2 separate regions of the Homo sapiens genome follow, and region 2 is linked to region 1. Evidence: fine-mapped expression QTL. A gene starts in region 1. The other region holds a variant in brackets. All regions are shown on one strand. Distances are between the middles of the regions. Region 1 holds the start of UTP23 (UTP23 small subunit processome component). Region 2 overlaps LOC112268030 (a long non-coding RNA gene).

What was found. PIP is the estimated chance that this variant, and not a neighbour inherited with it, causes the effect. A credible set is the group of variants that fine-mapping cannot tell apart.
Region 2: its variant is the best candidate, but not a certain one, in a credible set for the expression of UTP23 in whole blood (INTERVAL, PIP 0.80).

The regions. Positions count from the first base shown.
Region 1 is chr8:116,764,601-116,768,996 of GRCh38, forward strand. UTP23 (UTP23 small subunit processome component) reads left to right here and starts at 1,924. Exons shown (of 3, transcript NM_032334.3): 1 at 1,924-2,191. The coding sequence starts at 2,004. It also overlaps a transcript of EIF3H not described here. RefSeq lists enhancers at 1,841-1,990, 2,001-2,310.
Region 2 is chr8:116,801,278-116,805,673 of GRCh38, forward strand. All of the region lies in intron 2 of LOC112268030 (a long non-coding RNA gene), which reads left to right. Among named protein-coding and RNA genes, the nearest start is that of UTP23, 37 kb to the left of the region's middle. The variant G/C (reference allele first, on the strand shown) is at 2,439.

The DNA of each region.
Region 1 (4,396 bases):
CACTAAGAGCTTTTTCTGCATATCCCAGGACCTTGTTTTGAGAAACACTGCTGTAATAGAAAACTCTATTTTTTTCTCTTTTTGTCTTCTTTTAATTTAGCAGAGACAGGGGCTCCCTATTTTGCCCAGGCTGGTTTCCAACTCCTGGGCTCAAGTGATCCTCCCGCCTCGGGCTCCCGAAGTTCTGGTATTACAGGCATGAGCCACCATGCCCGGCCGAAAACTTTGTTTTAAACTTGATAATCACCATTATAGACCATCTTCATGTTTTCATAATAAAGATAGGGTGCAAACTGGCACTGTCATATACATAGAGCTTGGGGAAAAAATGTGCTGTAGCTTGGTAAATTAAAAAACGACAACAAAAACTAAGATAAGACTAAAATCCCTAGTGCTGCACCACATTTTTCTTAGTACTGAAAAGTGGCCAAGGAGCTGGTAGATAAATCTGAGGCTATTTAAGAAAAAATGTTTTAACTGTTTTGCAAGACTCAGGTGGTATCTCGTTTCTCTGTCTGTGGTGGGCGCATAGTTGGAGTAGAGAGTTGGCATACAGGGATAAAAAGAGGATTCAAATTGAAAAGTACTGAGCAATTACACTCAAAGACCTTGAATCCAACCCTGCAAAAGTTTTCATGGCTTCCAATTCCTAAATTCATTTTAAGTTTAAATGAAAGCAACCATCTAAGTGATGTGCTGGGACTCAGATCAGGGCTAACATTATAGATCTTATTCCAATTTCATAAACCTACATATTGAAATAAAACCCCAAATGCAAACAATGCATTCAATCACGTTGTAAATCATTTTCTGTGCTGGTTCTTTCAATCTTTAGCCAAAACTAGATCTGGGACAGATTCCAGGCAAGGACAAAAATGCAAAATTCCATACTCCCCATTCTTTGATTATTTTACCTTGAAGTGGATACTCGACAGTTAGCCACGGGAGAACTTGAAATTTTCTGATTCATTCTCCTCATTAATCAAATTGACCAAGTAATTTTTAAACCTCCAGTCAGCTTTGTGCCTTCCTGTTACTGGCCCAGTATGTAGTCTTCCTATGTCAGAGACCATGCACATAAAAAGAGTACTTGAAACTTATCTAGACCTACAACCAGTTTGACAGTGAGGAAGTTGAACCCAGCTTTCTTCGGGAGTTGCCCAAGATCAAACGGCTTGGGTTTGTGGCAAAACCAGGACTCAAGGTTAGGAATTCTGACTCTAGGCAAACGAAGCTCTTGAGAGTTCTTCCAAAACACTCCATGCGAGTGATTTAGGATGGTCCTAAGGCAGGAGGAAATGCAAAATGGTGGCACCCTTTGCCCTGACAAATGGTTCCTGAGTGACGTTAGTTTCTATGGTGGTGTAGCAAGAACATTTGAACTTCAGGCACGAAAACTGGGTTCCAGACACTAACAAACTACGTGCCCTTCGTGAACGTGCTTAATTTCTTTATGGGAAAGCAGCCAGTACAAACCTCCCCACTCATAGCTATCCAATATATCATTTCCTTCTTTCACTTGGGAATTATAAACATTCAGGGGAATAATGTAAGGTAAATCACTTAGGACAGTGTCTGGAACATATTAAGGCTCAATATTATCACTGACTACTACTATACTGCCAGTCTTTCAGAGAAGCTCTTGCTACGCGCCTCTAAAACGTAGGTAACACGCTAAATGTATTCTCGTAATTTTCTTTTACCGTGGCCCCAGACTGCGCATGTGCGCCCCCGTGCGGAATCGCGCACCCCAGCGGTTTTCCAGCGTACGCACAAGTTCCGCCCTAAGGGACCGCCCCTTTAAGCGCGGGCACTGCGGTGGAAGCGCGCGCTGGTCTGGACATGACGTAAACCAATGGGCAGGCCCGGAAGACAGAGGCGTTTGCTTCCGTGGCCAAAGGCGCTTCATTTCCGGGTGAAACTGGCATTGAGGGTACTGGGGCGTGCGTGAGGCGTTTACTGATGCTTCCTGGTCCGGTGGCCTCGGTCCCGGTAAGCCAGGCATGAAGATCACAAGGCAGAAACATGCCAAGAAGCATCTTGGCTTCTTCCGCAACAACTTCGGAGTCCGCGAGCCGTACCAGATCCTGCTGGACGGCACCTTCTGTCAGGCGGCGCTGCGGGGCCGCATCCAGCTGCGGGAGCAGCTGCCCCGCTACCTCATGGGGGAGACGCAGCTGTGCACCACAAGGTGGGCCCGGGGGGCTGGGGAGGAGGCACAGAGGGTCCGTCGGGTGTTGTAGAGGCGAGGCCGTTGCTCACAGACCTTCATTGCGAGCTCAGGAGGTGCAAAACGCCCCGCCCACGTGGAGTTGACAGTTAAGTGGAGAGGTGAAGGTGGTCAGGCGAATACCTATAATAGAGGCAGATTGGACAGTGCCCTGTGAATATCACGTGTCGTTAGCCTGGCGAATGAGAGCACATTATAGCAGAGAGATCCGACTTCGAATCTTGATCCCAGTTCTACCAGCTCTGTGATTTCTGTCAAGTTATTTAGCCTCTCTGAGCCTCGGATTCCTCATTTGTAAAATAAAGATGATAACTGCTTAGAAGATTGCTGTAAGCTCAAACGAGTATAGTGTACTAGAGCATTTTTCGGTATCCAAAGTGTACCCGTCTTCAAATGGTTGCTGTCATTTGCATAGCTTTTCTTAGTTTAAACCAAAACTCTGCAAGCCTCACAGTGAACCTGTGAGTTACCATCTTTGATGTCCAGGGCAAAAAGTCAGTACTTGAGATTAAGGAATCTGCCCAAGCACATTTGTTTATTCAACTCGCTTTATTAAGTACCTCCTATATGCCACATACTGCTCCCTCATGGCCAGTAAAGTGCATAAGTCAGTCTGCAGTGTGTGTTTTCACTCTAGGTCTGATGTTTCCCCACTTCATTGAAATGTGGGAACACTTAGGATGGAAGCTTGTCGGGATGAAGAGGAGAGAGGAGAGAATTGTGACAGATTTCAGATAACATTTGAGCCCATTCACTTGTTCAGTTCTGAGAGGAAGAACTATTTTGAATGACAGAAAAGAATGACACTTCTTGTTGTGGAGACCTCTTCACACGAAATGGAGTTATGAAATGCCTGGGAAAGAGGTTGCAGCACAGAATATATTTGGGAGTGAAACTAGGAAGAAGGCAAATTGAGGCTAGGCCATGAAGAACTATTAAGAAATTTAGTAGTTTTTTCATTGTAGAATATTTACTTTTAAAAAGCAAAAAAAGAAAATTAAAATGACTCATAATACCACTACTCACGAATAATCACTGTTAACATGTGCAGTGTCATCCATCCAGTTCTTTATACACACTCACACAAGCACAAGAATGGACTTTTAAGCCAGGCAAGGTGGCTCACACTTGTAATCCTAGTAGCTACACAGGAGGCTGAGACAGGAGGGTTGCCTGAGTCTAGGAGTTTGAGGTGAGCCTGAGCAACGTAGGAAACCCCCATCTCTAACTACAGCCATAACAAAGTATGGGCTTTTTCTGTGTATACTGTGTTAATAGTCTCCTTTTCCTCACATACGATTACTTAATGAACAGCTATCTGTATTTGTTCAGAATTTCTCAAGCAGGGTCTCGGCTGGGTTACAGATACCCCCAAAGTTTTGATCCCCTTAGTCTTTAGGGCTGTCTAACAAATCCTTCAGTAGTCTTTGCTCCTGAATTGATTGCTTTTGTCTACAAGCAATTTGTCCATATACTCCTGTGTGCCATAGAAATATTAACATTTTAAATATAGTGCTATGATATTAAAAAGGTTGAGAAGTGCCACATAAAATTATATTCTACAGCAATTTTTCTAACAAATTTATTTTAACTCTGGAATTTTTCAGACAACTCAAAGGTAGAATAATATAATGAAACCTCTCTCCAGCTTTTGCAGTTATTAACATGGCCAATCTTGTTGAATCCCTCACCTCTCCTTACTGATGGGTTGCTTTGGAGCATATTATTTATCACTTCTTTGGCATGTATCTTGAAAAGATAAAGAAGGCTTTTAAAAATCAGTATTCAAACTAAATACATATATTACATTTGATTTATATGTCACTTAAGTTTTTTAAAAAAATTTATTTTTGAGATGGAGTCTCACTTTATTGCCCAGGCTGGAGTGCAGTGGTGCGATCATGGCTCACTGCAGCCTCCGCCTCCCGGGTTCAAGTGATTTCCCTACATCAGCCTCCCAAGTAGCTGAGATTACAGATGTGTGACACCACGTCCTACTAATTTTTGTATTTTTTAGCAGAGACAATGTTTCACCACGTTGACCAGGCTCGTCTTGAACTCCTGACCGCAGGTGATCCACCCACCTCGGCCCCCAAAGCATGGGGATTACAGGCATGAGCCACCATGCCAGGCAGTTTTTAAAAATTTTGGCAGTTTCCCCTCCCT
Region 2 (4,396 bases), 37 kb after region 1:
ATTAAAGGGTGACATTCTCTTGCTGTGTTGAAATTAGACTACACTGTGATTATATCCTACAGTCCTAGAAAACAACAGCAACCAAGCTACATTCAACTGTTAAAAGTGTTATTCATAATACCTCTTATAGCAAGCTATACTTATTCCTTCCTTTAAATTAAGTTGCCTTTTTCTTATAAAAGTAGCATATGTTGATTAAGTGGAAGTACAGAGCCAATTATTGTGTTAGTTTCCTATTGCTGCTATAACAAATTAACACAAATTTAATGGCTTTAAATAACACAAGTTTATTCTTCTGGAGATCAGAATTCTGAATTGACTTTCCCAGGCTGAAGTCAAGGTGTGGGCAGGGCTCATTCCTTTTAGAGGCCCTAGGGAAAACCTGTTTCCTTGCCTTTTTGTTGCTGGGGGCTACCCACATTTCTTTGTAACCTCCTTCCCTCATCTTCAATTTTGCTTCTGGCATCATATCCCCTTTTCCTCTAACTCTGCCTTCTCCTGAGTTTTCTTTTTTTTTTTTGTTTTTTGAGACGGAGTCTTGCTCTGTCGCCCAGGCTAGAGTGCAGTGGCGCAGTCTCGGCTCACTGCAAGCTCCACCTCCCGGGTTCAGCCATTCTCCTGCCTCAGCCTCCCGAGCAGCTGGGACTACAGGTGCCTGCCACCATGCCTGGCTAATTTTTCTTGTATTTTTAGTAGAAACGGGGTTTCACTGTGTTAGCCAGGATGGTCTTGATCTCCTGACCTCATGATCCGCCCGCCTCAGCCTCCCAAAATGCTGGGATTACAGGCTTGAGCCTTCTCCTGAGTTATTATAAAGACCAGTCTGATCATATTGGGCCAACCCAGGTAATCCAGGATAATCTCTCCATCTCAACGTCCTTAATTTAATGACATCAGCAAAGTCTCTTTTGCCATATAAAATAAAATTCATATGTTCAAGGGATTAGGATATGGAGATATTGGAGGGGGTTATTCAGTCGACCTTAACTACTGTCTATGTTTTGGAGCATTTACTTAATATTCTTCTCGAATTTATATAATTCAGATTATTCTGTATAGATACATTGATGTTATGCCTTTGTCATTTACCCTTGTATTATTTGTCCATCCGAATAAGTTTTTTGAAATAATACTTTTTGACAGCTGTATAATTCTTCTGTAGGGATATATGATAATTTATGAAGTCATTGCATCACAATTTGGACGCAATCGTTGGAGCAATCATGGTTCTAAGAGATAGAGTCCAATTCAACCTGCTTAAGCAAAGCAAGGAAGTTATTGGCTCTGGCAATCCAATGCACTGTTAACAACCAGACTCCATGGGATTCAGCAGGGCTTCAGGGGCCACTGCAACCATGGATTCTAATAGTGCCAGGACAAACTTCATCTTCATGTCCTTTTCATGCCCTCTCACATGTTATGATCTCATCCACTAGAGAGGCACTAGCTGACCACAAGCCCTTTGTTTAACTAAGTCAATCCAAGCCCCTTAAAAAAAAAAGAAAGAAAGAAAAACCCCAGTTTCTTTCATCATGGCCTGAATCTAATCTCAGGGAGTTCAATTGCAGGTCTTGGTGAGCTGGGTCCTTGTCCCTATCAGCAATGCCTGGCAGCTTGTTAGAAATGCGGAACTCAGGCTCCACTCAGGACATAGTGAATCACAGCCTGCATCGTAACAATATCCCAGGCAGCTTGAATGCCCATGGATGTTTGTGAAGCACCGTTCTAGTAATTGCCTTAGTTCTGTCTTTAGATTTTTGTGGATGTGGACAAAGCCTGTGTTGACTGACCAGCAATCAAGGTTTATAGTTGTAGGAGAGGAACAGGTAAGGGCGGTTTAGCAAGACAGAGCAAAAACAAATAGTTTCACAGATTTTTGAGAACCATACTCATAAAAATGATCATTGCCTCTGCACAGCAGTTTCTTGCACCATGAGGCAGCTAAATCTGAATAGCCAAGACCTGCAGCTGTGTCATCTGTAAGTTGTCTGAAGCACCTCAGGAAAATATGGTCTTGCCAAGTAAATCTGGTATCTCTCTGGTTTAGGCTCTGTCCCTGCCTGGTTCACCCCAGAGAGTCAGCTGATTTGTCCTTCCATGTGTTTGCAATTAAATGGGTGGACAAGGGTGAAGCCAGCACAATCTGGTATCATTTTGTTGATTACCTATGAGGCTTCTTTTCCATTCTACAAACATCACCTGCAGGGACTTACATCTGGGACTGTTGTGATTCCTACCTTTTTGTTGTTGTTGTTGTTGTTGAGACAGAGTCTTGCTCTGTTACCCAGGCTGGAGTGCAATGGCACGATCTTGGCTCACTGCAACGTCTGCCTCCCGGGTTCAAGCAATTCTCCTGCCTCAGCCGCCCAAGTAGCTGGAATTACAGGTGCCCGCCAGAAAGCCCGGCTGATTTTTTTTTCGTATTTTTAGTAGAGGCA[G/C]GGTTTCACCATGTTGGCCAGGCTGTTCTTGAACTCCTGACCTCAGGTGATCCACCTGCCTCGACCTCCCAAAGTGCTGGGATTACAGGCGTGAGCCACCGTGTCCAGCCCTCCCATCCTCTTAAGAAGCACGTAGTTTTCACACTGTTGCTAGCCAGGGAAACAACCTTGAGTAACACGTAGAGGAAACACTAAGCAAATTTGCAGAAGAATGATTTTAAAATATTCTTCAGATAAAATAATTGGTAACATGTATATGACTAGGAAATACGGACCTTGGTATCAGATATGTCTTACTGTCACAGAGTAAAAAAGGGCATAGATTCCTCTATATCTGGGTTCTGTGGTGCTAGAGAAGGATTTAAGGAACAGCGACAGTCACTCTGACATATTAACAAAACGTTTTCCAATGGCTTTTCTTGTAAAACAAATATAAGTCTCATTACCAGAAGTAGAAATAACATTAGAGGTACAATGATATGTTTCAGAGAATGGAAATCATCGCATTTTCCTTCTGATATGGCTTGGCTCTTTGTCCTCACCTAAATCTCATCTCTAATTGTAATCCCCACGTGTTGAGGGAGGGACCTGGTAGGAGGTGATTAGATCATGGGGGCGGTTTCCCTCATGCTGTTCTCATGATAGTGACTGAGTTCTCACGAGATCTGATGGTTTAAAAGTGTTTGGCAGTTCACCTCATTGCTCGCTGTCTTGCCTCCACGTGAAGAAGGTCCTTACTTCCCCTTTGCCTTCTGCCACAATTGTAAGTTTCCTGAGGCCTCTCCAGCCAAGCAGAACTGTGAGTCAATTAAACCTTTTTCTTTCTACCTAAATTATCCAGTCTCAGGCAGTTCTTTATAGCAGTGTGAAAATGGACGACTACACCTTCTAATACACCAGATAGGAGGTAGAGCTCTAGGGATCTTTTGGACCATAGGTGGAAGGGAAGTGCGGTATGGGGAGCAATGTTGGGGGTATTTATAAAAGGGCAACATGAGGGATCTTTGTGTGGATGGGATGGAAATGTTCTGTATCTTGACTGTACTAATACAAATGACCTAGTTGTGATATTGTACTATATGGTATGTTACTACTGGAAGAAACTGCATAAAGGGTGCCTGGAGTATTATTTCTCACAATTGCATGTGAATCTACAATAATCTCAAAGTAAATTGTTTAATTAAAGCATTGCGCTGAAGTAGTATCTATCTTAATTACTGAGGGTTTTTTTTTTTTTTTTTGCAGCTTCTTAAATTTTTCTCCCATGGCTAGTTCCTCTCCTGCCTCCTCTCAATTTCATCCCTACTCAGGCTGAGTGCCTCGTTCTAGCAAATAAATATGGGGCAAATAAGGTATCCTCCCTAGCCTCAAATTCCTCATCTGCAAAATGGGAATGACGGGAGTTCTCACTTCCTAGGGTTTTTGTCAAGATTAAATGAGATAACGCATGTAAAATAATTAGTCCAGGGCCTGGTATATAGTAAATTCTAGTTAAATGTTAGTTATATAACCATATCGGAACACGGTAATCAGAGTGTCTATGTAAAAATGTGCACACATGGTTACAGGGGATGGGATTAGAAGGAGCGTTCATTTTGTTTAATGACTCTACTTCCAGGTGACAGGGCCCGTGTGGGTCCTAAAAATGCTGTGTCCTCTCGGGGCAGGCTTCATGGGTGTGTGGCTTGTGCAGGCTTACAGGGTCACATGCTGGGTTTTATGTTCTGCTATGTATTAGGGATTAATACGACGTGTGTATATATGGAAGGGAGTTTGTTAAGGAGAATTGACTCACACAATCACAAGGTGAAGTCCCACGATAGGCTCTCTGCAAGCTGGGGAGCAAGGAAGCCAGTAGGGGCTTAGTCTGAGTTCAAAAGCCTTGAAATCGAGGAAGCTGACATTACAGCCTTCAGTCTGTGGCTGAAGGCCAGAGAACCCCTGGCAAACCACTGGTG